Linked DNA regions of Homo sapiens: regions 1, 3, 4, 5, 6 and 7 are each reported to be linked to region 2. The links are microRNA targets in miRTarBase. Many come from high-throughput screens and were not tested one by one. Region 2 holds a microRNA gene; each other region holds the end of a gene's coding sequence.
Evidence for each region. The annotated mature microRNA hsa-miR-3671 reads AUCAAAUAAGGACUAGUCUGCA and lies in region 2 at 2,472-2,493, shown strand. An mRNA with a match to its seed (bases 2 to 7 or 8) in the 3' UTR can be bound and repressed. Matches are read on the target gene's strand: a 7mer-m8 pairs with bases 2 to 8, a 7mer-A1 pairs with bases 2 to 7 and ends in A, and an 8mer does both.

Region 1 (4,336 bases), not on the chromosome of region 2:
TGGAACAGATTTTTGTTTCCTCAGAGATGGCTTGAGATACTCCCAAGAATACCCAAAGGATGCCATATGGGGAATTAGTCATTGATGCAACAAAGCTGAGACCTCACATGTAGCATTAACGGCGTTCTCTCTCTGTTTTCCTTCAGGCTTCCATTAACTGGCCTGAACACACAAACCCAGCAGTTGCTGATGACTGTAAAGGAAAGAAAACCCAGTTTGATCTTTCTGTCTGAAACTTGGTCTTTAAAGGAAGGCAGAGAAATTGGTGTGACACCTGCTTCTCAGCCAGGTTCAATAATACCTAATTCTAATTTGGATTACATGTTTTTCAAATTTCCCAGAATGTCTGCAGCCATGAGAACGTCAAATACAGCATCTAGGCAACCCCTTTGATCATGTTGTACGTAAACAGTATTTATTATAAATTACTACCGTGACTGGGATGCAAGAGAATTAGGACTATAATTTTCCTATTTGATGTGTGTGTGTGTGTGTGTGTGTGTGTGTGTGTGTGTGTGTGTGTGACCTTGATCCAGTCAACCACTTCAAATTCCTACACTGTCTCAAGAGTATTAAAAGGATTATATGAAGTAATAAAGGATAAAATGCATTGGAAAAAGCTGTGAAGCATGATTGTTTCATCAGTGGGCACGGTGGAGTAACACTAAAGAAACTATGATCCTTTCATGGTTTGTTTCTTGTTTTTGTTTTTCTGGGTTTTGTTTTTGTTTTTGTTTTTGTTTTTGTTTTGGTCTAGGGAGAGTTGTTAGAAGGTGTCCCTAGGAATCCTTCGAAATGAAATCCTCATCTCACCTTCCCTCCTGACTTCGTATTCCTGCTGCACCATGTTCTTCCCGGATCTACCTAACACCGTAACTGGCATTCATTTCCGTATCTCCCCTGCTCTTAGCCAGCTCCGCTCACAAACTTGTGTGTGTTCCATGGGATGAAGGGTGACTTCTCTAAGCTGTGGAGAAATGTCAGATATGTGTGGCCTCAGAAAAAGCGTCTCCTTTTCACCTTCTTTCAGAAGAGGGAGTTGAACTGGGCATCCTCTGATAATGTTTCCAACCCTGACACTGTATTTACAATGCCCCATTGCTAAGCATCTGGTTGCTGTACCTAATAGGCCTCCATAGGTGAGAGGATACCTACTCAAGGTGGGTAGGTTTTAGGGTCTTTACGTGCTGAAAAAAAAATTTTTTTTTTTTTGTTTGAGATGGAGTCTCGCTCTGCTGCCCAGGCTGGAGTGCAGTGGTGTGATCTCAGCTCACTGCAGCCTTCTGCCTCCCGGGTTCAAGTGATTCTCCTGCCTCAGCCTCCTGAGTAGCTGGGACTACAGGCGCCCACCACCATGCCCAGCTAATTTTTGTATTTTTAGTGGAAATGGGGTTTCACCATGTTGGCCAGGGTGGTCTGGATCGCCTGACCTCAAGTGATCCTTGGCTCAGTTTCTAAGGAGAACTGTCCTAATTTCTCCCTTTGACAGTGTTTCTAGGACACAGGGGTATACAGTAAACCTGAGCTTTCTGGTCCCACATTGAGCCAGGAGCTCAAGCCAAGCACCTGGCTTAATGTGCCACTGTCTTGGTCCAGCCGGGGCATGGATGGTGTGGCTCAGAGCCAGGCAGGGGTAAACCTATTTTGCCCAATGCTATTGCTCACCCTCAGCTCTGAGCTCTTCTCCTGTTTGAGATCTTTATGTTCTGCCTTTTGCTCTAAATGTACAGAAGCACTCACTGGGGTGGTCTTGGCAACAAGCTCTGTACAGGGATGTGTCAGTCACCATAAGCTGGGGCACCTGAGTCCTTAGTTAGAGACAGGCTCCTGGACCTGATCTCCCCACAGAGATGTCACGATCATGTCATCTGTAGTATCTCTCAGTGACATTGCCTCAGTGAGTCTGGGGCTTCTCTGATGAGAATATTTGATTCCCAATGCAAAACCTCCTCAGCCACTTCTGATAAATGCAACTTCTGGACATGATGTGAAGATTCTGATGATTAGCAGAATAACTGGCTAAAAGTGTTTTCTATGTTCCTTTTCAAAACTCTGATTTCAGAATCAAGTCATAATCAGCTGTGGAAAGAAACCTTGAAGGTGAATCAAAGGATCTTACTGTAGTTTCAACTGGGCTTGTTCTTTGATTTTTCTGACATGTTTCTAAAATAAGATAATTTTTTTTTGAGACAGGATCTCACTCTGTCGCCCAGGCTGGCATGCAGTGGCACGATCACAACTCACTGCAGCCTCGACTTCCTGAGCTCAAGTGATTCTCCCACCTCAACCTCCCCAGTAGCTGAGACCACAGATGCATGCAACCATACCCCCCTAATTTTTTGTACTTTTAGTAGAGAAGGGGTCTCACCATATTGCCTAGGCTGGTCTTGAGTGATCCGTCCAACTCAGCCTCTGAAAGTGCTGGGATTACAGGTGTGAGCCACTGCACCCGGCCAGGCTATCACAATTTAAGGAAACCTCTTGTTTTCCCATGACTGAAAATTCTGAAGTCATTGAAGCCATCTTCCCACCTCAATATTGCATATCTTCAATGTCCACATACTCCATGGCATATTGTAATTTGTCATCCAGGTTACCTATATAGCCCTGCCTCCTGTGCCTCTCCTTGGAGAAACAGACTTCCCTTCTTTATTCTAGATAATTTGCACTGAGAGGAAGCATTCCTACAAATAGACAAAAGCCCTATTTAGAGCATATAGAGCAATAATATCAGAATTTTAAAATTCTGTTTAAAATTAATGGAGTGATCTCACTGCAAGTTTCAAGGTAGGGAATTTTAAAAGTAGTCTTTGGTAAAACAAAAATTAAACTGGGAAATAACTGTCAAAATCAGCCTTTGTGGAAAATTTGAATCTAATAATTTACAACCTCCAGGGGAACCGTGAGTGAAGGAAGAAGCTGCTTAATTTCAGGAAGAGAGTTGTGGCTTTTTTTTTTTTTTTTTTTTTGTGGAATCTTGTTCTATCACCAGGCCAGAGTGCAGTGGCATGATCTCGACTCACTGCAAGCCCCTTCTTCCGGGTTCAAGCGATTCTCCTGCCTCAGCCTCCCGAGTAGCTGGGATTACAGGCACCCACCACCACGCCCAGCTAATTTTTGTATCTTTAGTGGAGATGGGGTTTCACCATGTTGGCCAGGGTGGTCTGGATCTCCTGACCTGGTGATCCGCCCGTTTCGGCCTCCTAAAGCGCGGGGATTACAGGCGTGAGCCACTGCACCCAGCTGAGTTGTGGTAATTTGACTCACCCACCTACTCTTCCCCACTCTGCAGCTTGATGGCTGCTGAGAACATGGAGTCCCTCATTCCCAGGCCAGCACGCTGATGCCACAGGATGAAGAATCTTTGTTCTCAAAGAATTGTGGTTGTGTGCCTCCATCTATCTTAGTGGTTCCTTGAAGGGTTGGCTCAAGGGCTTGCCTTTATTTCACCCTTTTTAGATCTACACAGACTGAAGCTGATTTATTGGGGGGTGCCAGTGTCATTAAAAGCACTTAAAGACAAATACACTTGCTGAAGTTGCCTGGGTGAGGGATAACAGGGAAAACAGATGACAGAATGAAAAGCCTATTAAGGAAGAGTCTGGGGGGAGAATTACATGAGATAGTAAGGGCTTTGAATAGCACTGAGGTATACCAAGGATTGAGTTCAATCATACATGTCCATGCAAGATTATAAAAATCTGAGAAACCCTATGTTTTACCTCTGATGATCCCGAGGCTCCATGCAAGCAGGAAATGAAGGCTGAAATGAGAGTTGTAAAAATCCTGGCTAGTGAACCTGGGAGGTGGAGGTTGCAGTGAGCCGAGATCGCGCCACTGCCCTCCAGCCTGGGCGACAGAGCTAGACTCCGTCTAAAAAAAAAAAAAAAAATCAAAATCCTGGCTAAGCTCCCTAGAGGGATCCCATGGCAAAGAGCTTGAGAGAATTTTGGGTTTGCGTTCAGGCATGTTTTAAAAATCTCCATCAAATTGTTAGTAGACCAGAAGGCAGAGACTTCAGTGGCCACACAGGAGAAAGTGAAACCTTTACACAGTAGTTTACAAAGGTTCAAACAAAACAAAAAATGAAAACAAAAACAGAAGACTCCAACTCACAACCAGCAGCAACAAGAAAGCCTGCTCAGGGGTGAGAATTTGATGTCCAGGGTTTGCCACACACAGTGTCCACTTTTTCTTACCAAAACAATGAGGCACACACACAAGACAGTATAATAGTCGTAAGAAAAAATAGCATATGAGCAAGCCAAGACATTGGGCTTCCTCTCCAAATACTAAATTAATTATCTTAAATATGTGCAAAGAACTCAAGAAAATC
Region 2 (4,336 bases):
TTACTCTAAAATAATCACAGTATCTTTGTTCACGTAGCAGATGTTTATAATTCGGGTAAAAATGTGCAACTATTTCCAAGAACCTTAGGTTATGGGATCCAACTGTGATTTTTTTTTTTTCTTTAATCTTCGTTGCCCTCTCGTGTTTCAACTCTGTATTACAGTTGGCTAAGACCTAGATGATGACCTCCTTAATTTTTAGATATTTTTGCATTTTAGGCAATGTTGTTTTTAATTTGTGTGTAGGTGGATTGTTTCATTGGATGTTGCTTTTCTGAAGATAAGGTCATTTTCATAGTACGTAAAGTTAATAGTTGAGTTAGATTCACTGTACTTTTATTTTCTGACTTCTGCTGATCTAAAGAATTGATTCATCTACCTGACTTATTTGAAGTACAGTGCTAATATCTAATATGCATATAATGAGTCTTTGAAATTGAGCAAATGCCTAATGAAAACATAATTATTTTTCAAATATCTGTCAAGTTCCACTCATATTGAAATAACTTGAAACCTTATGACATGGAAAAAACCCAAGTGAATCATGGTTTTAATAAGTTGATATTCTGATGCCTGAATTCCAATTTCAGAATCTTTTGTACTTTTTATTAAAAGGAAGAATCATCCCTAAAATGACTTCAGAGTACGTCTCAAAGGTACAGATAATTTAAAAGCAAGTGATGTGTATATGTTATTATTACTTTTTAAAAAGGTATTCTGAAGGTTGTCAGTATCACCATAGGTATAGAATTGACATAAACTATAGTGAAAAATATCAATGTTACTAATTTGAGTACATTCTTAGCACTCAGAGCAAGAGGAATGAAAGTCATTTTTGCTAATGTGCATTTTTCTTCTTAATTATAAAGCCCCACTAGCTTCTGCTTCATGATCTCAGTTACTGAGAAAACTAAAACAAAAAGTAAATGTTTTTAGAAATCCTTTTGTTTGTGTAAACTGAATATCCAGTTGATGGAGTTGGACAGCTAGGGTAGGGTAGAGAAAACAAAGCACTGTGTTCACTCATTTGACATGGTTCTGGACATGGGTTCGCCATAACTTAGCAATATATGATCTCTGGCAAATCACCTAAGTTTTTTTTTTTTTTTTCTGCCTATAAAATGGGGTAATAATATCTAATCTATTTCCAGAATCCTTTTTTGATGAATTAATGAATAATTCATTGCCAGCCCCATAGCGTCTTGTGAAAACCAAATGAGAAAACATATAGAGCAGTTTTGAATGTTTGGCAGATATGAAGTATTATTGTCATGTTTGGTTATGAGCACTTTGAAGACAGGAATCATGTCTTAGTTATCTTTATTTCCTGAACATCTAGAAGAGGGCTTTAGAACGTAGTAGTTCCTCGGTATATATATGAAAAATCAATGATTGAGGTCAGGGAGGCACAGTCAGTGAATCCATGCATGGAAGAGATAAGCTGTGAAATATGCTGGAAGCTTACTGCATATTTGATGTATTAGAGTGAAAACCTAATCATGCAGTTGTTCATCCTCATTAATATGGATAAGTCATGTGTTCATCTTTCATTCTAATTTAATTCAACTGGGCCTTTTAATATTTCAGCCTCACCACTTGCTGGGCTCTGATCCTTCTTTTTCTTCTGCCTCCTCACGTCTCCAACCAGAAGGTGATCTTTTAGTCCTTCACTTCATGGGGAGCCTTCAGAGAGAGTAATGCAGCCACCAGAAAGGATGCCGTTGACCGACACAGTGACTGACAGGCTGCCCTGGCTCAGTTATCACAGTGCTGATGCTGTCTATTCTAAAGGTACAGTACTGTGATAACTGAAGGATGGCAGCCATCTTACCTTCCATCAGAGGAGCCTCACCGTACCCAGGAAGAAAGAAGGTGAAAGAGGAATGTGAAACAGGTGGCTGGGACCCAGAAACCCTCTTACCCTGCACCTCTGTCATACTTCTCCCGGGGCATAGGGAGAGTTATTCTGCTTCTCTTTGCCTTGTTTTGTAACATGGGGTAGTTGTTGGTGCAGCCATGTTGTGCTGAGTGAACATATATTAAGATCTTTGGAACCTTTAGGAGACTGAAAATAGGTAAGTATGAATTAGTATTTCTGGAATGGTATTCAGAGAACTTCGTACCATTTTTATAAATGTGAAAGGTAACCTAATTAGAACAGCTTGGCACTTGTCAGTACACTACTAGATTTCAAAATCAGATTCTACTTACAGGGAGAAAAAAAAAGCCCAATATGTTGAACAGTATTGAAATTGTTGCATAAATAAAAGTCCATCATTGTAGACCAGCTTACTGAAGTGAAGAAAGAAAAAAAGTATATCTTTGTCTTGAAGGAGTAGATAGTGACATGTCATGTTTCTTTCAGGATATTTAGGATCTGGCCTAATTCAAAAGAATATTTACTGAATGCCTATGTTATTGCTGCTGCTGTCACATTTACATGAAAATAAAATGTAAATTATTTTATTTCTATCAAATAAGGACTAGTCTGCAGTGATATCTGGCACATATCGATTTCAGGAATACGAAGCTGTAAACACCAAGCCAGCATCACGTGCATGAAAGACTAGGAAATTTTTTTTTTGTTGCCCACACGGGAGTGCAGTGGCATGATCATAGCTTACTTCAACCTTGATCTCCCAGGCTCAAGCAATCCTCCCACCTCAACCTCCCGAGTCTGAGACTACAGGCTCAGGCCACCCACCTGCAAATTTTTAGTAGAGACAGGAGTTCACTATGTTGCCAAGGCTGGTCTTGACCTCCTGAGCTTAATTGATTCTCCCACCTCAGCCTCCCAAAGTGCTGGGATTACAGGCATGAGCCACTATACCCAGCCAGGATTAGGAAATTTAACAGCACACATCTTCAACCTCCATCTTACTCTAGAGAGTACTGCTGGGGGTGAAAGGTGGTTATTGGAGAACCCAGGATTCTGCCAATGCCAATCTCTGCCAATTATCCCTCTTCCCTGTAGACTCCTAAGGACACTGTACACATGTAACAATAGCAAATAAGAAACAAAGTGCATGACTTGATTATGTGTTAGATCTTAGATCACAGTACTGTGCAAGGAAGGCTCAGGTAATTTCATGGAACGTGTTTTAGGCTCAGAGCCTAATCGGGTATATTACCTCATCCTAGGCTCATGTCTGTATCTGGGAGCCTGTGGATGTCTGACTGGTGTAGGAACCCAAAGCAGTGACCCATATGCTTGAGCAAAGAGAACAGAGATGGCTGAGGTTAGGCTGTAATTTGAACCTACCTACCACAGAGAGAAGAGGGGCCAGGGAGAGAAAAACCATTTGTGACTTTTTTTTTTTTTTTTTTTTTTAAAGAAAGAGTCTCAGTCTGCGGTCAGGCTGGAGTGCAGTAGCTCAGTCTTGGTTCACTGCAACCTCTGCCTCCCGGGGTCAAGTGATCCTTATGCCTCAGCCTGCCGAGTAGCTGGGATTACAGGTGTGCACCACCATGCCCATGTAATTTTGTATTTTTGGTAGAGATGGTGTTTCACCATGTTGCCCAAACTGGTTTCAAACTCCTGTCCTCAAGTGATTCTCCTACCCTCAGCCTCCCAAAGTGCTGAGATTACAGGCATTGAGCCACTGCACCCGGCCTCGTGTGACTTTTTAACATACTGTGAACCTTACCTACTATCAGCCCTGCCAACTGCATGTCTTAGATATGGGTCAGGTGTATTATCAGGTCCTCCACTGGGACACAATGGGGAAGAAAGGGAACTGAAAGGGAGTAGGCCTCGTACAGAGAGGTTCTTTCTTATCCTTCATTGTGCCAGTCCTCAGACATTGATGGTCACTGTGTTCCTTTGCTGGTGATTGCAGTTCCCTTTAGTGTCTCTTCCCTCTGCTCTACCCAAAGAGGAACCATTCTTAGTAGTGATCCCTTGAGCCACACTTGGTTGGCCCAGAACTGTTATTTTTTCAGACACATTGACCACATTATAGCCCAGTACCTTCACATGTCCTCATAGATCCACAATTTCTCTAAGCTATATAAGCTACACTACGTTTTTGATTAATTAGAGAGAGGGGTCTCCCCAGTTATTATGCTACCACTCCTGAAATTCTTTGGAGTTTTCTTAAAAGGAATTTCTGACAGAAACTCTGGAAGAACTTTTAGGAAGGGAAAGTTAGGGATTGGTGAATCCTCAAGTAATTTGAAACACTCCTTATGTTTAGTGTTTGAGCAGGTGGAAAAAAGTGCTTCAAGAAGTTATGTGTTGTGCAATCATTGGCCTTGGTGAAGATTTCACCACCTTCCCTGATCTTCCTGTTTTCCCCGTTACTAGTTTTATAAAAATTCATTGGGTTTTATACTT
Region 3 (4,326 bases), not on the chromosome of region 2:
CAGGGCAGGCTGACAGAGGTGCTGAGCAGGAAAGCATGCAGGAGGAAAATCCTGCAGGGGTGTCTGTTTCACAAGAGTTACAAGAATACAGGACCATTCCTTCTACCAAGGAGGCTAGTGGTTCGAGATCCTAGAAAACTAGGACTCCGCCTTTACCAAGAATAAACAACAGCTTCTCCTTCCCCAAATTGCAAAAACAAACAAACAAACAAACAAAAAAAACACCCAGGCTTTCTCAGGAAATCTGGTCCCCAACTTTGAATGCCCTCCTTGTTTGCTACTGCATATGTAATTGAAATGCCTCCAAGAGATGCAAATAATTTTTGTCTATTTAATCTGCACACTTTTTGAGGCTGGAGTCCCGAGTGTGTCAGTATTACTGCCCATTCCCGAATCGAGGCACAGAGATGAAAGTGCAGCAATCAGACATAATGGTTCAGTGCAGCCTGTGTCAATGCTTGCACAGTAGTGTGTTAATGAGTGTTAAAACTGACATCTCAAATATGGCATCCTCAATTTTAAAAATTACAGCTCTGTAAGAAGTCATGCTGTTAAAACACACAAGAAATACCAGTTACGCCTTCAAGTAGCTAACACACAGCCTGTACAGATCACCACTATCCCAAAGTGCATAACAACTTATTTTCTTTGAAATGCGGCAAGAATTAGCAGGTAGTTCAATTATTTGAGTGCTAAGATAAGTAGAAATAACAAATGCAAATGTTAAATACCAATTACTACCTTACGAGCTACAAATCAGCTTGGCATTACAACATGCCCTTCCTCACTCACAAACCCGAGAAATGTGGGGGTTTGGCAGAAAACACAAACCTATAACCAATATGCATTTGTGCAACAGACGTGTCACTTCCCAACCCAGCACTTCCAAAATGCACATCACAGATATCAAAGCCTGGCCCATATATTTGGCCCACTGGCATTGAAAACAATAACCTTCAAATGCTGGGAGTGACACTTCTCTCAAGCTCACAGCTGGAAACAAGTCATCTCCAGTTTCTACTCTGTCCCCCTAAAGGAGGTTTACAGGTCAGTCTGACAGCCTGGTTGCCAAAGATGTCACCTCATATTTTTACAGAAAATTAACCTGACTCTCCCTGGTTAGCTTCAGGGACTAAAAGAAACTGCTGGTTAGATGTTATCTAGCAAGGTCGATCAAAGACCCAGTGGAGAGCACCTGTAAACTTCAAACCTTAGTGAGACTTTAGGGGAGAGGAAGATTATTTCTCCCTGGGTCACCATTCAGTCTACATTCCTTGTGGGAATTAGCTCCAGGGTTTAAGCCAGCCGGGTTGTTCTTTCTCCCACTTATCTGAAACCACCACTTGAAAAACTCAATGCTATTGGGACATTCTCATGCTCAGAAGTGAGTAAAGGTCCAGTTGGGCAAGATAATATTTTATATAAGTATATATGTATGTACAAGAGATGTTAAAAAGATAGTCTCTAAAGCACGTTGGGATTCCTCCAACGAAAGGCACCAGATAAATGCAAGTCATTACCAAAAAGAAAAGTCAAGTTTTCCAGCTTTCACATCTGCAAAGGGTAACCACTAGGGTACCTCTTTTTTGGTGGTAAGCCTTCTTGTTTAGAAAAATCTTCATGAAAGTGACTGAGTTATTCTGCCTTGTTCCTTGCTTCCACTTTGCATAAGCTTCCTGGTCAGCGGCCATGGATACCAGGCTCAGTGACCCAATACCATCAGCCTTGGCAAACTGATCCGTCCTCATAAGTCTGTACCACCACCTGCCTTCAGTGCAGCTGGGGATGAGTCCGTAAATGTTATGCCTTCCAGGGCTGGAAGCACCAGCCAAATCTAAGTGTTCCATGTGCAAATTCTGAAAAATAACTCTGCTCCTCTGATTCAGTGCCCAGTTGCCTCTAAGTCATCTCACTTTTCCTGATGCTTCAGAGACACGGATGTAGACACTAGGAGACAGCCACCTCCCAGCCTCCCACAAGCCTCCAGTCCAATGGAAAGATTTGAACTGGGGGCTCCAGGACACAAGTGGCTAGTGAATTCATTCAATAAATCACCCACACTGTAGTAGCCATGACAACTACAAGAACACAAAGCCTTCTGATAAGATCCTTGCCACACCTCCAATGAGGTAAGTATCATCTTCAATCAACTGAAACACAAAAGGACCTCTTAAGAAGAGGCCCAACCTTTGGATGAAAACCCTGGATAGCTCCATGCTCAGACCCCTGGGTTCTATTGCCTTTTCAAAGATGGAACAATAATGAAAGCCACCTGGAAAACCATCAGATTACCTTAAAGATGATGGAGAAGAATTATCTTATAGAGGAACCCAGGTTCCCCATCACAATGTTATGTGCTGGTTAACCGAACAAGAGGAGCAGGAGCATTTTGGAGGAGGAAACAGTCGTCTCCCTTCAATACAAGTTTGGAAGCTTGAAGGTCTTTTGAATAGCATTAAGCTTTTCAAGTTTACAATTTTTTATGACATTTTATGAACTAGCAGTTTTTTATTTTACAACTCTTTCCTTTCTCCTGGCCTCTACCCAGTCACCCCCCATGAAAGGCAGTGGGAATGCAAGTAAGAACTGCAGTGTTTCCATCCTGGGTAAGCCACACCACCATCGTGCACGTCTATATTTTGAGTACATGCTTCCATACCACCAGGTTTCCATGTCATGGCAGGAACTCCAGGGCAATCACAGCATCATATACAACATACTATATCCTAGAAGCAAAATTATCTGACTAAATTCTGCTTGGAAATAAAAGGGCTCTCATTTGATGAGCTTTCAGAGTAGGCAACAAAAGTATTTAAGCTACTGCCCTTGCTAGCAACCCAACAACGTTCACCTCAGGGAGACGATACAACAGTAAACTTCTTTTTAGTTGAGGAAGACAACACGACCTTACTCCTAAACATCTTAAAAAATAAATATTTCAAAAACATGCTAATATCTTAGACACAGCAAAGTTTGGTCAAATGGCCTAGATCAGAAACCTCATCCGGAAATACATTTCTCTACAGTCACCCTAGGAAACAAGGAGGCTTGACTGTGAACCAAGGGGCTCAGCCTGCACTAACTTGGCTTTAAGCACCCTAGGGTTTGGACTATTTAGCTGAAGCCCCTCTCCCTAACACATCTGTTCTTGGGAAAAAAATTCGATCTTCACTGCATGTTTAACTAAGTAACATTCTCTAAAGAGTGACATTTATGAGATGAACATCAGTGTACATCGTTCTAAAGATGATTGGTGCACCCATGCAAGCCACGGAACTACAGATCATTTATAAAAACAACTTAGAGACTTGCATTGGTCAAGTCTGCTTAACTTTGCATTCTCTTTGTTTTGGTACTAAAACTAAGTGAAAGCAATGGATAAAGAGCTGAGATTTTGTTTTCACATGACTGTGAGCAAAATCTCATCATATCCTTGCTGACCTCATAGATGCATTTCTACTGGACGACTTGTGGGGGCTTTTTGTACAGAACTCACACGACAACCTCAGAAACAGGAGCACGACAACTCATAGACAGTACTGGGCCACAAGCACTAGAATAGCGTACACGATGGACAGAAAAATTAGCATTCTGGGTGTACTCATCTGGCAAAAAGGTGAACATTTTATGCCCACGATGCAAAGACCAGTGAGTGTCATTTCATGGAAAGGTGCAAAGGCATGGTGTCAGACACACCACCCTCTAAAAACGATTCTAAAAACTGTAAAAGAAACCTGGGTGCATATCCCATGCATCTCTCCCCTCAGGGGCTGGGCATACTCCTTACACCATAACCATAAGGTGCCTGGGCTGTGCCAGAGGCACAAGAGGCAGCTCAGCAATGTGGGGTGGAGGGTGACAAGTCCTCCCGGCTAACGTAGGGAATCATTTAAACTGAGTTCACTTGGTGAGCTCCTGCTCATGTTCGTCAGGCTTGCCATAAGGGATTTAACTTTATGGGCATAATAGTCCCTTAAATTGACCGAAGGGACCTCCTTCATTCCATCTCCAAAGTCACAGCTGCGCATGGCACTCTCAAGTTGCTTTTGGCGCCGGTAAAAGTGGGAGAACTTATTGAAGATCAAGGTGATGGGCAGGACCACCACGAGGATGCCTGCCAAGATGCAGGCAGAGGCAGTCAGCTTTCCTGCCGTGGTCCCTGGGACCACATCCCCGTACCCCACTGTGGTCATACTGACGGTAGCCCACCACCAGCAGGCAGGGATGGTGGCCAGGCCCTCGTTCTCCTCCTTTTCAATGGTGTAGGCCACCACGGAGAAGATGGAAATCCCCACGGAGAGGTAGAGCAAGAGCAGCCCTACTTCT
Region 4 (4,336 bases), not on the chromosome of region 2:
TTTGCCCTCACTGGCAGAGGGCAGCCACCCCACACAGTGAGGCAAGGGGCCCACTGAACTGATAACACACTGCTGTCCACGGAGAGTGGAGCTAAGAGAGCATTATAACATGCCCTCAGGGACTTTGGGGATCACAGGCACCCCCACCTGGGCACTACCGCAGGGTCTGCATAGAGCTTGCTCCTGCTGGCACCCAAAGCAGCTGGCTGGATCCTGCACTCACTTAATCACGTGCTCCCTTCCACAGGGGGTTGAGCGCTGTGGGCCGAGTAAATGTGGAACCCCCATTGCAAATTCGACAAAGTGGTTGAGAAAAATCCTGCATCACTTCTGTAGTACCTAGAGGTCTCCTGCAGTCCCTAGAGGCCCCAGCAGTTCCTAGAGGCCCCCAGCAGTTCCTAGAGGCCCCCAGCAGTTCATAGAGGTCCCAGCAGTTCCCAGAGACCCCCAGCAGTTCCTACAGGCCCCAGCAGTTCTTTGCCATGTGGGGTTACCCAGCATATTCACTTATTTCATCAAGTCAGAAAGCAGAGGCTCTCTAACATGTCTGCTAGCAAGATTATGTTTTTTTTTCTTTTAGTAACAGGGTCTCTGAGTAGTCTAGAGCACATGCCACCATAACCAGCTAACTTATTTTTTATTTTTTGTAGAGATGAGGTCTCCCTATGTTGCCCAGTCTGGTCTTGAACTCCTAGGCTCAAGCAATCCTCCCACCTTGGCCTCCCAAAGCACTGAGATTACAAATGTGAGCTCCCATGCCTGGCCAAGACAGGGTTTTAGATAATGGACTGTAATCATGAGAGCAACCTCACATCACATTTGCCACATTCCATGGGTTAGAAGCAAGTCACGGTCCTATCCATACTTCAGGGGGAGGGGTTCTGAACACCACCTTAGAGTCTGCCTGCCGCAGAAGTTACTATCTCTGAACTTCAGCTTTTTCACCTAAAAACATGAGGCCAATAATACACCTGCCCTTAGGGTAGTCGTGAGGATTAATGCATGTAGAGCTCTTTGAACAATACCTGGCTTGTAGCAACTGCTCCGTAATAGATAGGTACTATTATTATTGCTGTTATTATTTGTATTATTATTACTAGATATCTTGCTACAGCCACATAAACATCAGCAACTCTGACCACGTTTCAGAATTCACTGACTGGTTTGCTCGTGCTTCTCAGGGACTCCTAACCCATGCTCTTCTCACCATAGCTCAACACATGTGTGGCTGCAGGGGCAGCTGCGGTGTTTGCTGAACTTCTCTTGTCTGTCCATGACCTGGTGGGAAAATGAGGAGAGGAAGAGGAAACATCCTTCCTTTTTTATTAGACAGGGCTCAGAATTACTATCAGCTTGAGTACACATCCTGAACATTTTCAGCTATCTGGTCCAAGGCTAGGTCATCGATAAAGCTGAACACTCACAGTATCCACACAGCAGTTTAAAAATTGGGTAATTTGATAAAAGAATTAAGTCCTCATGGGAAAAGTCTGAAGCTTGTTGATCTTCCTCACACAAATATGTGCAGTTTGGTGGTGCTTTCATTTGGAATTCTATATGAAGTTAGAGGTAGAAAAACGTGAGTTTTCTCAGTAACTATGAGCCCTGAAGCTTCTGTTCTGATTGGAATATAGCAGAAGACCTAGAATTGAAAATGTCTGGAATTGCAAGTTCTCTGAATTAGCACTCAGACTTCATTTTTGTTTCATCCACCATTAGACTAGCCATCTTCATTTTGTTTCTTAGATTAACTGCAACAAATCAAAGGCAGTGAGAGGTGAAGTTTCTTGGTGATTTTCCTTCTGACAACAGTCACATGCACAGCAGAGAGCTTGAGAGTGATTAGGAGACAGCAAAGCTGTTGACAAAGGCAGAATTTTATAGGAAGAGCAGTTTGGGACTATTTATGATACAGGTTAAGTGGCATTGCTTACCTCTGTGGTATCACAGAGCATTGCAGCATCAAAAAAAGGTTACCTCTTATTGAGAATACGCACTTTAATCACATAAAATATGTTATACATTACTTTTTCAATGGTAGAAATAACACTTTTAAAAATTAGTTCTAGGGTTGTGCTTTAGATTTCATGAAAAATTAACTTATATATATCTCATATATTAATTAATACAGGTTAGTATTAGAGTAACATAGTTCATTTGGCAGGGGAAGGATCAAACAGGGAAGGATTTCTACAGAACAGAGGACAAGAAGGTGCACCTTTCACCTCCATCTGTGGGACAGGCCATGTGAAAGCACGCCTGCCACTGTCCTCACTTGACTCCAGCTGCCTTGCCTCCTTTGCTTCTGAAGTTCCTGTCCCTGCCACTTCTAATATCAAACCCATCACCAAATGGTCTGTCCTGTGTGTGGCTGTCTTCTCCCCTCAGCAGCTCTGGGAAATTCTCCTGAGGGCAAAGCATTGCCTGTTCTGGAAGATACCATCCATCCTGCAGATCCTGAGCCTGGTGGCCTCTGAAGCCCCACTGCTCTCCTCTGTCCCTTTCACCTTTCACCCCATTCAAGTCACCCTCCAACTTAGTGGGGACTTACAATCAGGATGTGCTTCTCCTTTAAGCTGATTTTTAGCTATTAAAAATGAATGAACTTGCAAATTATGTTTCTTTTATTCCTACTGGGGTTGCCACTCTTCCATTGCTGGCATCTTGGCTGATGGGAGGATGACATTTCCCAGTGACTGGGTCTGCTTTCACATTCATCTGCAGAATGAGGTGGTGTTTGCCTCCCTCAGGTCTTTGACTTGGGGCTATAATAACAGCACCATTGCTTGATGTCTTGCTTTGGTTTTGGTTTTCCCCATAGTCCAAAAGCATGGGGAAAATACACACACACACACACACACACACACACACACACACACACACACACACACACTCTCTCTCTCTCTCTCTCTCTCTCTCTCTGTCTGTCTCTGTCTCTCTCTCTTTATTTCTTAAAATACATGTTGGGGCTCTTTTCTTGTACTTCTACATTGTAACACACATAGTTTGGTTACAGCTTCTTCAAATAGTGACAATTTTCATCTGGCCTTTATGTATTCCCACATGGGAACTAAATGGATTAAATTTTCATTTCTTCCTTTGAAATGTATGCTCATAAAGCATGAGGAAATGTAACAGGAAAGGGTTTTAAGGCCAGTGGGATACTGAGTGAGCAAAGAAGACTAACAGAGAAGGTCCATTTATCATTGGAAACTCGAAGCTCGTTATTTGACATTTATAGTTTATACTCAGCCTACTTTCTGAAACTGAGGTGGCATCAATACATCAGACTAACAGGGAGAAAGAGGAGGGTGGAGATTCCACATGGCTGTGGGAGACAGACAAATTCAGCTGCAGCAATGCATTCCTTCCAATTTATTATTGGCTTACAGAGACCCTACATCTTCTGCCTGGAGTCGCATGTCCAGGTACTTAACTTCTGGAAATTGGCTGCAATGGCCTCCACCTGGAAAGGCCACCTCAGAACTGGCTTGTTAGATGTCCACAGGAAAGCAAGTCTTTGCCTTAGCCCAAAGCCCTTGAATTTTTATTGCTGTTTTACTAGATTGGTGCAAAAGTAATTGCAATTTTTGGTCATTGAAAGTAATGGCAAAAACCTTAATTACTTTTGTACCTACCTAATACTTTGTATTCTATCCTTCTTTTACTACATCGTTTTATCTGTCCAGTCACAAAGTTAAGAGGTTGCCCCTACAATAAGACTGTTCACATAGAACCTAGCTATTAGAAACACTAGCTGGTGGGATCATCCTTGCATCCATTAGGGAAGGAAGGCCAGTGAGGAGCACTGGCATTTGTTGGAATGTTACACTATTCTGGCACTTGGCAACGTTATTCCCATGGATTCTAAAACCAGGGATCAGCCATTCTACCAGTACCTGCTGCAGAAGATCATCTTTTTGAATGCGTCCCTGAGCTCTGGGCTCCGGAAGGCATATATGAAGGGGTCAATGACGGCATTGCACATGATCAACATGCCGTTCACCTGGAAGAGAGACATGTAGCAGGCGCAGTAGGGGTTACTTGGGCAGAATGTCATCAAGAGGACATGAAGCACAAAGGGGGCCCAGCAGAAGATGAAGACCCCGAGCAGGATGGTCAGTGTGATGGCCCCTTTCATGTTGGCTCTGGGGAGGGTGGAGATCTTCCTGGTGTGGGATCGAGCCAGCAGGAACATGTGCACATAGAGGCACAGGATGAAGACCAGCATCAGCGGGAACAGCGACGTGAAGGTGATCACTGTGGGCACATGATGGGAGAAGATCACCATGGTGATGCCAGTCCCCGTGCAGAACGTCCAGATGACCGTAAGCAC
Region 5 (4,336 bases), not on the chromosome of region 2:
CTAAACAGTTACCAGTGTTTCCTGCAATTATATTAGAACCAGCAAGAAAATGGGCTGGGCAGTTCTAAATACTACTGGGGATTATGGCAGGGCTTTAAAGGAAATATAAGCAACGTTTTAAACTGATTTTTTTTTTTGGTTTTTGAGTTTTATTTTTCTTAACTCACGTAGGTTCTACTGGAAGGACTACATCATCAAAGACCCAAACGTTATTTCACCATAGTGATTATTTCAAGTAGCTTGCTACTTGGACTTATTGTACTTCTATTGATCTCATATGTTATGTGGAAGGTAAGCATTTAACAATTACCAACATTAGTCTACTAAAAATGACATTTTCTCAAAGCCAATTTGACTTCCAAGTTATTAGATTTAAATATTTCACTATTTGAATGTTAACTTTTTATGTTGCTCAGTACTGATCTCACATTTCTCTTCAACACCAAAGTCTTTCTAGAAAAATATGCATTCTTAATTTGTTTTGAAAGACAGACGTTCCTTTTAAAAAACCATTTGGAAAAGATTGCAAATTACACGGAATGTCAATTTTGGAGAGAATGTGGTGTGTATCACTGAGAATTTCTGCATTAAAAACAAAAATGTTTCTTTAACCCAGTATGTCCCCACTAATTTTTACTGATTACCTCTGTTAAACCTTTATGACTGATGTTACAAGGGATGCAGTTTAAGAAATATTGGTGTTAACTGCTTAGATATTAGAAATGAGTATAGTAGATAAGAGAGTGTTCATAACTATACACTAGTGATTATGTTATGCTATTTTCAGGCTGGCTTCTTTAAAAGACAATACAAATCTATCCTACAAGAAGAAAACAGAAGAGACAGTTGGAGTTATATCAACAGTAAAAGCAATGATGATTAAGGACTTCTTTCAAATTGAGAGAATGGAAAACAGACTCAGGTTGTAGTAAAGAAATTTAAAAGACACTGTTTACAAGAAAAAATGAATTTTGTTTGGACTTCTTTTACTCATGATCTTGTGACATATTATGTCTTCATGCAAGGGGAAAATCTCAGCAATGATTACTCTTTGAGATAGAAGAACTGCAAAGGTAATAATACAGCCAAAGATAATCTCTCAGCTTTTAAATGGGTAGAGAAACACTAAAGCATTCAATTTATTCAAGAAAAGTAAGCCCTTGAAGATATCTTGAAATGAAAGTATAACTGAGTTAAATTATACTGGAGAAGTCTTAGACTTGAAATACTACTTACCATATGTGCTTGCCTCAGTAAAATGAACCCCACTGGGTGGGCAGAGGTTCATTTCAAATACATCTTTGATACTTGTTCAAAATATGTTCTTTAAAAATATAATTTTTTAGAGAGCTGTTCCCAAATTTTCTAACGAGTGGACCATTATCACTTTAAAGCCCTTTATTTATAATACATTTCCTACGGGCTGTGTTCCAACAACCATTTTTTTTCAGCAGACTATGAATATTATAGTATTATAGGCCAAACTGGCAAACTTCAGACTGAACATGTACACTGGTTTGAGCTTAGTGAAATTACTTCTGGATAATTATTTTTTTATAATTATGGATTTCACCATCTTTCTTTCTGTATATATACATGTGTTTTTATGTAGGTATATATTTACCATTCTTCCTATCTATTCTTCCTATAACACACCTTTATCAAGCATACCCAGGAGTAATCTTCAAATCTTTTGTTATATTCTGAAACAAAAGATTGTGAGTGTTGCACTTTACCTGATACACGCTGATTTAGAAAATACAGAAACCATACCTCACTAATAACTTTAAAATCAAAGCTGTGCAAAGACTAGGGGGCCTATACTTCATATGTATTATGTACTATGTAAAATATTGACTATCACACAACTATTTCCTTGGATGTAATTCTTTGTTACCCTTTACAAGTATAAGTGTTACCTTACATGGAAACGAAGAAACAAAATTCATAAATTTAAATTCATAAATTTAGCTGAAAGATACTGATTCAATTTGTATACAGTGAATATAAATGAGACGACAGCAAAATTTTCATGAAATGTAAAATATTTTTATAGTTTGTTCATACTATATGAGGTTCTATTTTAAATGACTTTCTGGATTTTAAAAAATTTCTTTAAATACAATCATTTTTGTAATATTTATTTTATGCTTATGATCTAGATAATTGCAGAATATCATTTTATCTGACTCTGCCTTCATAAGAGAGCTGTGGCCGAATTTTGAACATCTGTTATAGGGAGTGATCAAATTAGAAGGCAATGTGGAAAAACAATTCTGGGAAAGATTTCTTTATATGAAGTCCCTGCCACTAGCCAGCCATCCTAATTGATGAAAGTTATCTGTTCACAGGCCTGCAGTGATGGTGAGGAATGTTCTGAGATTTGCGAAGGCATTTGAGTAGTGAAATGTAAGCACAAAACCTCCTGAACCCAGAGTGTGTATACACAGGAATAAACTTTATGACATTTATGTATTTTTAAAAAACTTTGTATCGTTATAAAAAGGCTAGTCATTCTTTCAGGAGAACATCTAGGATCATAGATGAAAAATCAAGCCCCGATTTAGAACTGTCTTCTCCAGGATGGTCTCTAAGGAAATTTACATTTGGTTCTTTCCTACTCAGAACTACTCAGAAACAACTATATATTTCAGGTTATCTGAGCACAGTGAAAGCAGAGTACTATGGTTGTCCAACACAGGCCTCTCAGATACAAGGGGAACACAATTACATATTGGGCTAGATTTTGCCCAGTTCAAAATAGTATTTGTTATCAACTTACTTTGTTACTTGTATCATGAATTTTAAAACCCTACCACTTTAAGAAGACAGGGATGGGTTATTCTTTTTTGGCAGGTAGGCTATATAACTATGTGATTTTGAAATTTAACTGCTCTGGATTAGGGAGCAGTGAATCAAGGCAGACTTATGAAATCTGTATTATATTTGTAACAGAATATAGGAAATTTAACATAATTGATGAGCTCAAATCCTGAAAAATGAAAGAATCCAAATTATTTCAGAATTATCTAGGTTAAATATTGATGTATTATGATGGTTGCAAAGTTTTTTTGTGTGTCCAATAAACACATTGTAAAAAAAAGAATTTGAATTGATATCTAAAAACAGAATTTGAATTGATATTTCATCTTGACTTTTAAAGCCCTAGAGGCTAATTGTTAGTAACATCAATTTCTATTAGGATATCCGTTTGGCCACACAGCAGGAGGTTAGAGCAATGGAGCATTACTGAGTTCCTCCCCCTGTCAGATCAGCAGCAGCATTAGATTCTCATAGAAGTGCGAACCATATGGTGAACTGGTATGTGAGGGATCTAGAGTGCCATGTTCCTCAAGAGAATCTAATGCCTGATGATCTGAGGTGGAACAGTTCATCCTGAAACCATTCCCCCATCCACGGAAAAATTGTCTTCCATGAAACTGGTCCCAAAAAGGGTGGGGACCACAGGTTTAAAGCATGGCCACATTTCTTTATATTAAAATTCTAGTTTGTACATTTCTTTTAGAAACAATTACATGTTACTTTGGAATCATTTCTTCCATGCTTCCTCCATAAAGACTGATAAGTCTTGGATGCAATCTGTAAAGAAAATACATTATTTCATCAACTTATTTTGTTGTTTTTCACATACACCTAATAAGTATGGTACACAATGCCAATGCCAAATACAAATTGATAACAAACACAGCATTCCCAACAGAGCTGTAATCTAGAAAACTGAGAAGGTCTGATTGATAAATCATCAACAACAATAATTGCTCTAAAACCTCCTTAACTGACTTCCTTGATTGTCCAATGCTCTCCATTACCTCTGTAAAACAGTCAGTTATGCCTCTAGAACACCCATGTCTAGTGGGCACCCCTGCATGCTTCTTCTAACCACTGAGTGTCACAATGCCTACCAAGAATGCGTTTGCAGGTTCCTAAACCTGTTTATACCAGTTGCTATGTAAAATTGTTCCCAAGGGAAGTTGAATGCTCTGTAAAGGCCTAATAAAAGCAAATTACTGAACAAAACATGTTACAGTAATTATGAGTGAGAGGAAACTAAGATGGAAGGATAAAAATCTAACACTTTACTATTCAGATGGCTCCACTAAAAGATTTAAGATCTTGATCCATTTTTAAAAATCCAAAATGGAAGTTGTAGACATTATCTGTAGTTTATGCACAACAATAAATTAGAAAGCCAATGTAGACACGCATAACCAAAGAAAATGCCTTGGGTCTACATAACAGTTGAATAAATGTAAAGTTGCTTTTTATTTATTGAAATTTGTGCATGTCTCTTTATGCTTCCCTGATTTACTGATTT
Region 6 (4,281 bases), not on the chromosome of region 2:
AGCGATCCTCCCACGTCAGCCTCCCAGGGTGCTAGGTAGATTCCAGGTGTGTGCCCCCATGCCTGGCCACTGTTTTTATTCTGAGTGTCTCTGTGCCTCGCTAAAAACCATGGGTTCTAGTACCACAGAAGGAGGAAGAATGGATGTGAAGGAATAAGGATCTTATTCCTGTCTCTGTCACAAGGATCTTAGTGGGGGTCACATGAGGGCCACAAAGACAAAAATCCTCCAGTATACACAAGTTGAACATATTGCCATTTATTTTGTTGAGGTTAAACATATAATTTTAACGTATTCAAACTTATTAATGGACATTTAAAAAGCTGAAAAAGTGAAGAGCTGTACCATGTCGTGGATTATTTTAATGTCATAAAATTCAAAGGAATGCCACATTTCAATAAAACATTTTAAGAAGTTGACATACTTTTATTAGAATCATGCAAATATTAGAGAAAGGTTAATGGCTTTTTTTTTAGTAGACATTACTGAGAAAACTGGCTCATTATATCACAAAAAGTGAAACTTGGATCTCATATATAAAGGTGTATTTCACTGAATTTTTTTTTTTTTTTTTGAGACAGAGTTTCCACTCTTGTCGCCCAGGCTGGAGTGCAATGGCGCGATCTTGGCTCACTGCAACCTCTGCCTCCTGGGTTCAAGCGATTCTCCTGCCTCAGCCTCCCGAAGTAACTGGGATTACAGGCGCCTGCCACCACACCTAGCTCATTTTTTTTTTTTTTTTTTTTTGTATTTTCAGTAGAGACAAGGTTTCAGTCTTGAATTCCTAACCTCCGGTGATCCACCTGCCTCAGCCTCCCAAAGTTCTGGGATTACAGGCATGAGAAACCATGCCCAGCCGATTTCTCTCATTTTTTTTTTTTTTTTTTTTTAAGAGACAAGGTCTCGCTGTGTTGCCCAGGCTGGTCTCAAACTCCTGGGCTCAAGCAATCCTCCTGCCTTGGCCTCCTGAGTACAAAAGTGCATCTCAAATAGTTTTAAAATGATGTGCAATATTTAGCAACCAGTACAGCCCAGCATCAACCAATTAGAAGAAGTGTCTGACTGTTGAGAACAGATGCAGCCAAGGTGTCACCCCGGTGTGTACCAGCTGGACTTCAGCACTGTGTAGTGTTCTCAATATGAAAGGAAAAGCTGAACAGCTAACAGGAGAAGATGTAAAATATCTTAACAACTCTATTAAATAAGCAATCAAAAAGCAACCAACTGCAGAACAAGATAATTCATACTGTCTACATTAAAATTAAAATTTTCTTTTTTTTTTGAGACAAAGTCTCTCTGTCACTCAGGCTGATGTGCAGTGGCACTGTCTCTGTTCACTGCAGCCTCCACCTCCCGGGTTCAAGTGATTCTCCTGCCTCTGCCTCCTGAGTAGCTGGGATTACAAGCATGCGCCACTGCACCCAGCTAATTTTTGTATTTTTAGTAGAGATGGGATTTCACCAAGTTGGTCAGGGTGGTCTTGAACTCCTGGCCTCAAGTGATCCACCCACCCCGGCCACCGAAAGTGCTGGGATTACAGACCTGAGCCATCACGCCTAGCCAAAATTAAGAATTTCTGTTCAGTGACGGATACCCCTAGATACAAAGAAAATTTCAATTTTTTCCCCTTTAAATCTTTTTTTTGAGTGGAGCCTTGCTCTGTCGCCAGGCTGGAGTGCAGTGGTGGAACCTTGGCTCACTGCAATCTCCGCCTCCTGGGTTTAAGCGATTCCCCTGCCTCAGCCTCCAGAGTAGCTGGGACTACAGGTGTGCGCCACCATGCCCAGCTAATTTTTTGTATTTTAGTAGAGACGGGGTTTCACCATGTTGGCCAGGAGGGTCTCAATCTCCTGCCCTCATGATCTGCCCGCCTTGGCCTCCCAAAGCCCCCTTTTTAATTTTTTTTTGTAGAGACGAGGTCTCGCTATGTTGCCCAGGCTAGTCTCGAACTCCTGGGCTGCAGCGATCCTTCTGCCTGGGCCTCCCAAAGTGCTGGGATTACCAGTGAACCTCCATACCCAGCCCAAATATGCATTCTTGGAATTATCTGCAATTGCCCAAGAATGTACAAGCAACTCCTGAGAATAAACCAAAAAAGATAAGAAACTCCATGAGAAAATGGGCAATGCACAGGAAGGGAAACCAGAAAGGCTAAGTGAAAAAATTCCCCAAATTAATGCTGATCAGATGAATGTATGTTAAAGCACTGCACCACTATCTACCCATGAGACTGGCAAAAATTAGGTAGTCTGGCAATACAAGTGCTGGCAAGGATAAGGAGAAAAGGGCGGCCTCAAGTAGGAGGGTCAGTCACCGTTCTAAAGAAAATCTGGAAAACCAAAGAGAAACTGACCTCTGTGACCTATAGGCCCATCCTGGGTACACATGCCACACAAGCACAGAAGGGAACACACGAAAGGATGTTTATCGTGGCCTGTATCCGGTGCCAAGGGGTCAGGGGCACCCAGGTGTCCCCCACTTTAGGCAATGTGTGTAAACTGCAATTGACATTGTGGAGTGCCACATGGCAGGTCAAAGCAATACTGCATTTCTAGAAGAGTCAATGGGGCTAGATCTTAGCACACATTGAGTGAAAACAGCATAAGACCTATTGCACAATAGCACTATGTACAGTAAAAGCACATATTCACACATGAAACGTGGTATTTTACAAATACATTCATATTCAAAGACATGGGTGCTTATGGGAGAGGATGGTGTAAAGAAAGGGAAAAAAGCCATAAAACCAGAGAATCTTTGCATGGGACTGTATTCCTGAGATCCCAAACCAAAGGGATGAATGTGCTGTTATGCCTTAAATGTGTGCACCAGGAAATGCAAACTAGAAAGGGTGGCTCTGAAGGGTCCTCAGGTGAGGAAGACCCCCAGGGCTGAGAATCCACCACCTTCATCCTTCAAAAGAGTACCTCAGTTGTCTGCTTACGCTTCAGCCAGCATGTGTGAGCTTGGTCATTTCCTGCAAGCCAGGCAACCACACCAGTGTATAAGCCTCAAGCAAATGTCACTCCCAAGCCCCAAATGGGACTAAGGCCTCTGCTGGGCTAGGCGTGGTGTAAATCCCAGGCCTGGAAGCTCCTACCCAACCCTCATTTGTTTCAACTCACTTTCAATATGTGCATAGTTTCATAAAGCAGACATTTCCATGAGGAAAAGAGGATGGTGGTGAAAGGGGAGGGGTGAAGGGACATCTCCAAGTCACAGAGGCTGCAAAACTCAGCATGACTTGTGGACGGAGCCACAGGCCACCCAGGGCAACAACACCCACATAACTCACCAAGTGGTTAACGGCTCTAAACCAGGGTCAACAGGAGAGGGGACAAAAGTCACTCCTTGATTTTGCTGCAGCTTAAAGATAAGTTCTACCTCAGCTTATGCTAGCCCTTATGGGGCAAAAAAGGGAAAGTCATTCTCCCCAAGTCCAGGCTGGGCCGTCAAACAGGGAGTGGGGTGTCAGCCCCAGACCTCAATGAGGTCCCCAGATTCCATGCCCAGGTCAGCTGGCAGCTCCCTGCCTGAAAGCTTTGTCCCATCAAAGAAGAAGGAGAGCTTCCGTCCCGACAGTCCCATGGCCTCCTCATAGTGGGACATGAGGGTCTTTAGAGGGGAATCCTGGATGGAGACAAAAGAAAATGGACGTCAGAACATGAAAGGGGGCGGGGATCCCGTAGGGATAGACGAGGAACTTGGGACAGGGAGGATGGCGGCAGGGGCGGAAACAATAAAGTCAGGGCCCCATGCGGGGAAAGGAGAGAGGACAAAGAAGCCAGCCCAGCCAGGCTCCTCTCTGGGAGCTGGGACGAATCCTGTCATCCCTCTGGGCTCCAAGTTGCTCAGGTAGAGGACGGGGGCCACGAGCCCAAGGCTTAGGGGTATAGGCTCTAAGTCAGGCAAGTCCTCCTAGCCTCAGCCTCCTTCCCTATGAAACAGAAGTGTGTACCAATGACTAAGAGAGCCCAGATTCTAGAGTGAGGATGAGTCGAGCTGGAGGCCAGGCTCTCCCACCTATTAGATATGTGACCTTAGAAAAATGTTACAGGTTATGTTCCCCAGAGAAGACACCTTGTGGTCTTAACCCCTGTTAAGTGTGAATGTGATGTGATTTGGAGACGGGGCCTTTGCAGATGCAATCAAGTTGAGGTTGTACTGGATTGGGACGAGTGCTAATGCCGTGGGACTGGTAGACAACTCACTGCAACCTCTGCCTCCTGGGTTCAAGCAATTCTCCTGCCTCAGCCTCCTGAGTAGCTGCAACTACAGGCA
Region 7 (4,336 bases), not on the chromosome of region 2:
AAGCAAAGGAAATTTAAACAAAAAATAGGGATTTAAGATGGACTCAGGTCGTTCTTGGCTACTCAAAAATCGTGCTATATTGCTCATATCCACTGCAACCAAAATAAAGTAATATCTGCCAACTCGCACTTACCAGGTAAGAGCTGTGGCTTTTCTTCTCCCCATCTTGTACCAAGTAGTGTGGTCCCCAGAATATCTCATTCATGTTTGGGGCAGAAAATGGTGGGAGGCCCTCCTGAAGCCCACTAGAAAGGTCATGCTACCAACAAGTCCCTTCTTTGACAGCTCCTGAGGACCTGGCCCCTGATAGTGAAGGTCTGCTTGAAGGGCACCCTGTGTTGGCAGACACTTGAGAAAGGTAATGGGAGGAGCTGGCCTGAGCGCCTGGTGTGAGACCAGGCAGGATGCAGATGGATGCTACCATTGCTATTCCCTTGTGAGCTGGATGTCCAAGGTTTCTCTTCGGAAGACCTTGTTATTCTCCTTTTAGGTACTATAGCCACATTCAAAACATCCCAGTAGATGGTGTTTCCTGGTTTGAGTAACCTGGATTTCCCTTAAGCAGATTTCCAAAAGCAGATTTTTTCAAGCTTTATTGAGGTATAATTGCTATGCAAAAAAAATACAGTTATTTAATATACATTTTGGTGAGTTTGGACATACACATATCATATATCTGTCACCTCCAAAAATTTTCTAATGTTCTTTTGTGGGTTTTCTTTTTTGTTGTTTTCTGGGTTTGTGATTTTTGGTTTGGTTGCTTGATTGGTCTTTTGGTGGTAAGACTATTTAGCATGAGATCTATCCTTTTAACATGTTTTAAAGTATTCAATATATTGTTAACTATAGATATTATGTTGTACAACAGGTGGCCAGAACTTATTCATCTTGCATAACTGAAACTTTATGCTGATTGAACAATTCCCCTATTTCTTCCTCTCCCCAGCTGAGGCAATCACCATGCAACTCTCTGCTTCTATGAGCTTGACTTAGGTTGGTGAAAAGGTATTGTGGTTTTGCCATTGAAAGTAATGGCAAAAACTGCAATTCCTTTTGCACCAGCATAATATTTTTGGACACCTCATATATAAATCATGCAATATTTGTCCTTCTGTGACTTGCTTATTTAACTTAGCATAACGTCCTCTAGGTTAATCCATGTTGTCAAAAATGGTAGGATTTCCATTCCAGAATTAAAATAACTGAACAAAAAGAACCACAGGTTTTTTATTTGGATGAGTTCAACACAAGGTATAGCAGAATGTAAGGAAATATTCACACCTATTTACAATCAGGTAACTTCCCTATTGTCAACTTTTCTTAAAAATGTCATAATTGAACCCCGACTCATCTTCCATACCTAAATGGAAAGCATTTTTTAACTTTTCCTGAGCTCTATTTATAGACTAAAAAGTAGATGATGTTCCGTATACAACATGGGGTTTCATGACCACTAGTTCCTACAGCCTTTTCACTTAGCCCTTCCTTCTTGAACATAAATCTGCAGATACTTGTTTAGAATTTAATCAGAAGGAGGCATTCATTTTTTTTCTTCTACCTGGCAACTTATTCTCTTAGTAGCCCCTTTCCATTCATCGTGTACTTCCTGACTTCTGGTAGATTCTAAGACAGCAAATAATTCCTTAGTATACTGCTTTTATTCACACAGACACAACCAGGAGGGAATTTCATATCACTGATTCAAGCTTTCCAACATTTCTTTAACATTTTTTACACAACCTGTAACACAATTGACACATATACTATTTATTAATCATCCCCCTTAGTAAAGCTATAAATTTTAAGCCTGGGTTTTCACAACCAGACAAAACACTATTAAAGGGATAAAATATTTCTTGTGAAAATTACAATATGTACTTTAAAATATTCTGTCTTCTAGAATAAATATAATGTCTTTAAAGATTCAGATGTGTTTTATTTTACTATAAGCCACCTTCCATTGAATATCCTTTGGCTACCTGCATGCTGAGTCTCCCACCTTTCACATATCTTCTTCCCATTTAAAGTCTTGTAACTGGAATTCTGTGTTTCACACAGCATTTTTGTCTGGCTGAGTTTAAAATCATCCTAGGTTTGTAAGATACCGTCACCCTCTCCCCACCTTTCCCTTTCCACAATTGTTTATATCAATCACATACAGGGTACCCTGGATTTTTTGTTGTTGTTGTTTTGGTTTTGGATTTTTTTTTTTTTTTTTTTTTTTAGTAATCCAGGAGACAGGAAAAGAAGTTTGAGTTCCAGGTATAAAAATTTGTTTAAATGAAAAAAAATTAATAGATGGGGCCTGCTCTCTTCCAGTGCCTTGGGTTTGATTGAGACAAGTCCCCTGTGATTAGAGAAGTAAAGATTAAGAACAGACAGATTTTGTGAGGCTTTGGATGCAGGCTGAGCTGCTGCAGAGTGCAGGGACCCAGGATAGGCGAGGACCACCCTCCTGCCTATCGCCATGTGGAATGCAGCAATGTTCTGCCTCCCTGAAGGAAAAAGCTTTCAGAACACAGAGAGTCAATGTCTATGATACAGACACTGAAGACGCCATTATGGGCAGTGGGAATGGTATAACTTTGCTAAGTGGATTTTTAGTCATGCCATATGACGAGAGAGAACTGTAATAGGTAGGAAGAAAAAGAACAGGGCATATATCCAGAGGTGATAGCAATTGACAGACATGTTATTGTAGGCATTGTTAAAAGTTTGTGTGAGGCCTTCTTGAGAACTACTACCAGAATATTAAGGCATACCTTGAGTAGGGTCAGCTTTGCTAATTGGATCATCAAACGACCATAGTTTGATCATTAAAAATAAATGTAATCTAAATATTGAATCCTAATTGATGATATAATTCTGAAGTGCATAGAAGTAAAGGGTACTAATGCTGATGTCCGGAACTCACCTTGAAATGAATCAAAAAAAGGTGGTTTGATGAGTGAATTGATTGATGAATAAACTCACGGATAGATTACATCTATGTAACCAAGTAAAGACAGCAAATATTAGCAATTACACAATCTCAGTACTGAGTATAGGAAACTTCCTACATATTATTTTTAACATTTCTATATGATGAAAATCTTTCATTAAAAATTTTGCAAAAAAAATTACTCTTATAATCACAGACAGGTGAAGTGTGCCATATTTGGATTGCACAGGCTTTAATTTCAAATCCTTTTGTCACTTGTCCTGGGAATCAAAACTCCCACTCCAATCTCTTTTCAGGTTGACTTTTCCTTGTCTTCCTTCCTCTCCCTGGAGCTAAAAGTTCTGGTTCTTTTTTATACCTAGTACCATAATATATTCATTTAAACATTGAGCATGCTATAAATAATGAGCGTCCAGAATTCTGACACTACAGAGTAGGTGGTTCTCGGGATTTTCCAAGTTTGGAGATGGTTAGGACAACTTGGCTCTATTGAGAATTTTTCTCAGGGCCTCCTTCACTTCCTTGTTCCTCAGGCTGTAGATGAGGGGATTCAACATGGGGATGACCTCTGTGTAAAGCACAGACACTACCCGATTCTTCTCCGAAGACTGATCTGAGTTACCTCTCAAGTACATGAAGATGAGGGTACCAAAGAAGAGTGACACAGCAGTGAGGTGGGAGGTGCAGGTGGAGAAGGTCTTGGCCTGGCTTCCAGCAGGGATCCCCATGATGGCCACGATGATAAACAGGTAGGACACCAAGATCACCACCATGGAAGCAGGGATGACAAAAATGGCAAACATAATAATCAGCACTTCTTGAGTGTAGCTCTCCCCACAGGTCAACTTTAACAGAGGAGGGAGGTCACAGAAAATAAAGTCAATCTCACTGGTTCCACAGAAGGAGAGAGTGAAGGCTGAGACTGTCCGCACCAAGGCACTGATGAGACCAGCAACGTAAGCCCCAGCCACAAGACTCAAGCGGGCCTGCTGTGTCAGGATGGTGACATAAAGCAGGGGCTGGCACACAGCCAAGTAGCGGTCATAGGCCATGAGGGCCAAGAGGTAGCAGTCGATGGAACCAAAGAAGGTGAACAGAAAGAACTGAGCAGCACAGCGTGTGTAAGATAAAGCTGCCCCATGCTCCAGCAGCACTGCCAGCATCTGGGGGACAGTGATAGATGAGTAGCAGACGTCCATGAAAGCGAGGTGACTCAGAAGGAAATACATTGGAGCGTGGAGCTGGTGATCCATGAGGATCAGAATAATCATCTCTAAGTTCCCCAATACGGTGATGAGATACATAAATAAAAACAAGAGGAAGAGAGGGAGTGCCCATTCAGGATATTCAGTGAATGCAATAAGGAGGAACTCGGTCACCAAGGTGAGGTTCATC

Region 1: the mRNA of NLRP11 is a reported target of hsa-miR-3671. Seed matches in the 3' UTR shown: 7mer-m8 at 472-478.
Region 3: the mRNA of KCNS2 is a reported target of hsa-miR-3671. Seed matches in the 3' UTR shown: 7mer-A1 at 956-962 and 7mer-m8 at 498-504.
Region 4: miRTarBase lists MC2R as a target of hsa-miR-3671. Seed matches in the 3' UTR shown: 8mer at 3,021-3,028.
Region 5: the mRNA of CERKL is a reported target of hsa-miR-3671. The part of its 3' UTR that is shown has no 7-base or 8-base seed match.
Region 6: miRTarBase lists NFATC2IP as a target of hsa-miR-3671. Seed matches in the 3' UTR shown: 7mer-m8 at 986-992.
Region 7: the mRNA of OR9Q1 is a reported target of hsa-miR-3671. Seed matches in the 3' UTR shown: 7mer-A1 at 3,179-3,185.

The regions. Positions count from the first base shown.
Region 1 is chr19:55,781,682-55,786,017 of GRCh38, reverse strand. NLRP11 (NLR family pyrin domain containing 11) reads left to right here. Exons shown (of 10, transcript NM_001394894.2): 10 at 147-619. The coding sequence ends at 393. Among named protein-coding and RNA genes, the nearest start is that of RFPL4AL1, 15 kb to the right of the region's middle.
Region 2 is chr1:65,055,919-65,060,254 of GRCh38, reverse strand. MIR3671 (microRNA 3671) reads left to right here and starts at 2,413; the gene lies at 2,413-2,500. It overlaps MIR101-1 (microRNA 101-1), which reads left to right and starts at 1,747; the gene lies at 1,747-1,821. It also overlaps a transcript of JAK1 not described here.
Region 3 is chr8:98,428,960-98,433,285 of GRCh38, reverse strand. It overlaps KCNS2 (potassium voltage-gated channel modifier subfamily S member 2), which reads right to left. Exons shown (of 2, transcript NM_020697.4): 2 at 433-4,326. The coding sequence ends at 3,873. It also overlaps a transcript of STK3 not described here. Among named protein-coding and RNA genes, the nearest start is that of KCNS2, 4.2 kb to the right of the region's middle.
Region 4 is chr18:13,880,736-13,885,071 of GRCh38, forward strand. MC2R (melanocortin 2 receptor) reads right to left here. Exons shown (of 2, transcript NM_000529.2): 2 at 1,309-4,336. The coding sequence ends at 3,890. Among named protein-coding and RNA genes, the nearest start is that of MC2R, 33 kb to the right of the region's middle.
Region 5 is chr2:181,534,645-181,538,980 of GRCh38, forward strand. It overlaps CERKL (CERK like autophagy regulator), which reads right to left. Exons shown (of 13, transcript NM_201548.5): 13 at 2,028-3,600. The coding sequence ends at 3,540. It overlaps ITGA4 (integrin subunit alpha 4), which reads left to right. Exons shown (of 28, transcript NM_000885.6): 27 at 172-291; 28 at 788-4,296. The coding sequence ends at 883. Among named protein-coding and RNA genes, the nearest start is that of ITGA4, 79 kb to the left of the region's middle.
Region 6 is chr16:28,963,054-28,967,334 of GRCh38, reverse strand. It overlaps NFATC2IP (nuclear factor of activated T cells 2 interacting protein), which reads right to left. Exons shown (of 8, transcript NM_032815.4): 8 at 243-3,630. The coding sequence ends at 3,472. NFATC2IP-AS1 (NFATC2IP antisense RNA 1) reads left to right here and starts at 891. Exons shown (of 2, transcript NR_186408.1): 1 at 891-919.
Region 7 is chr11:58,179,453-58,183,788 of GRCh38, reverse strand. OR9Q1 (olfactory receptor family 9 subfamily Q member 1) reads right to left here. Exons shown (of 3, transcript NM_001005212.4): 3 at 2,173-4,336. The coding sequence ends at 3,412. Among named protein-coding and RNA genes, the nearest start is that of OR9Q2, 7.4 kb to the left of the region's middle.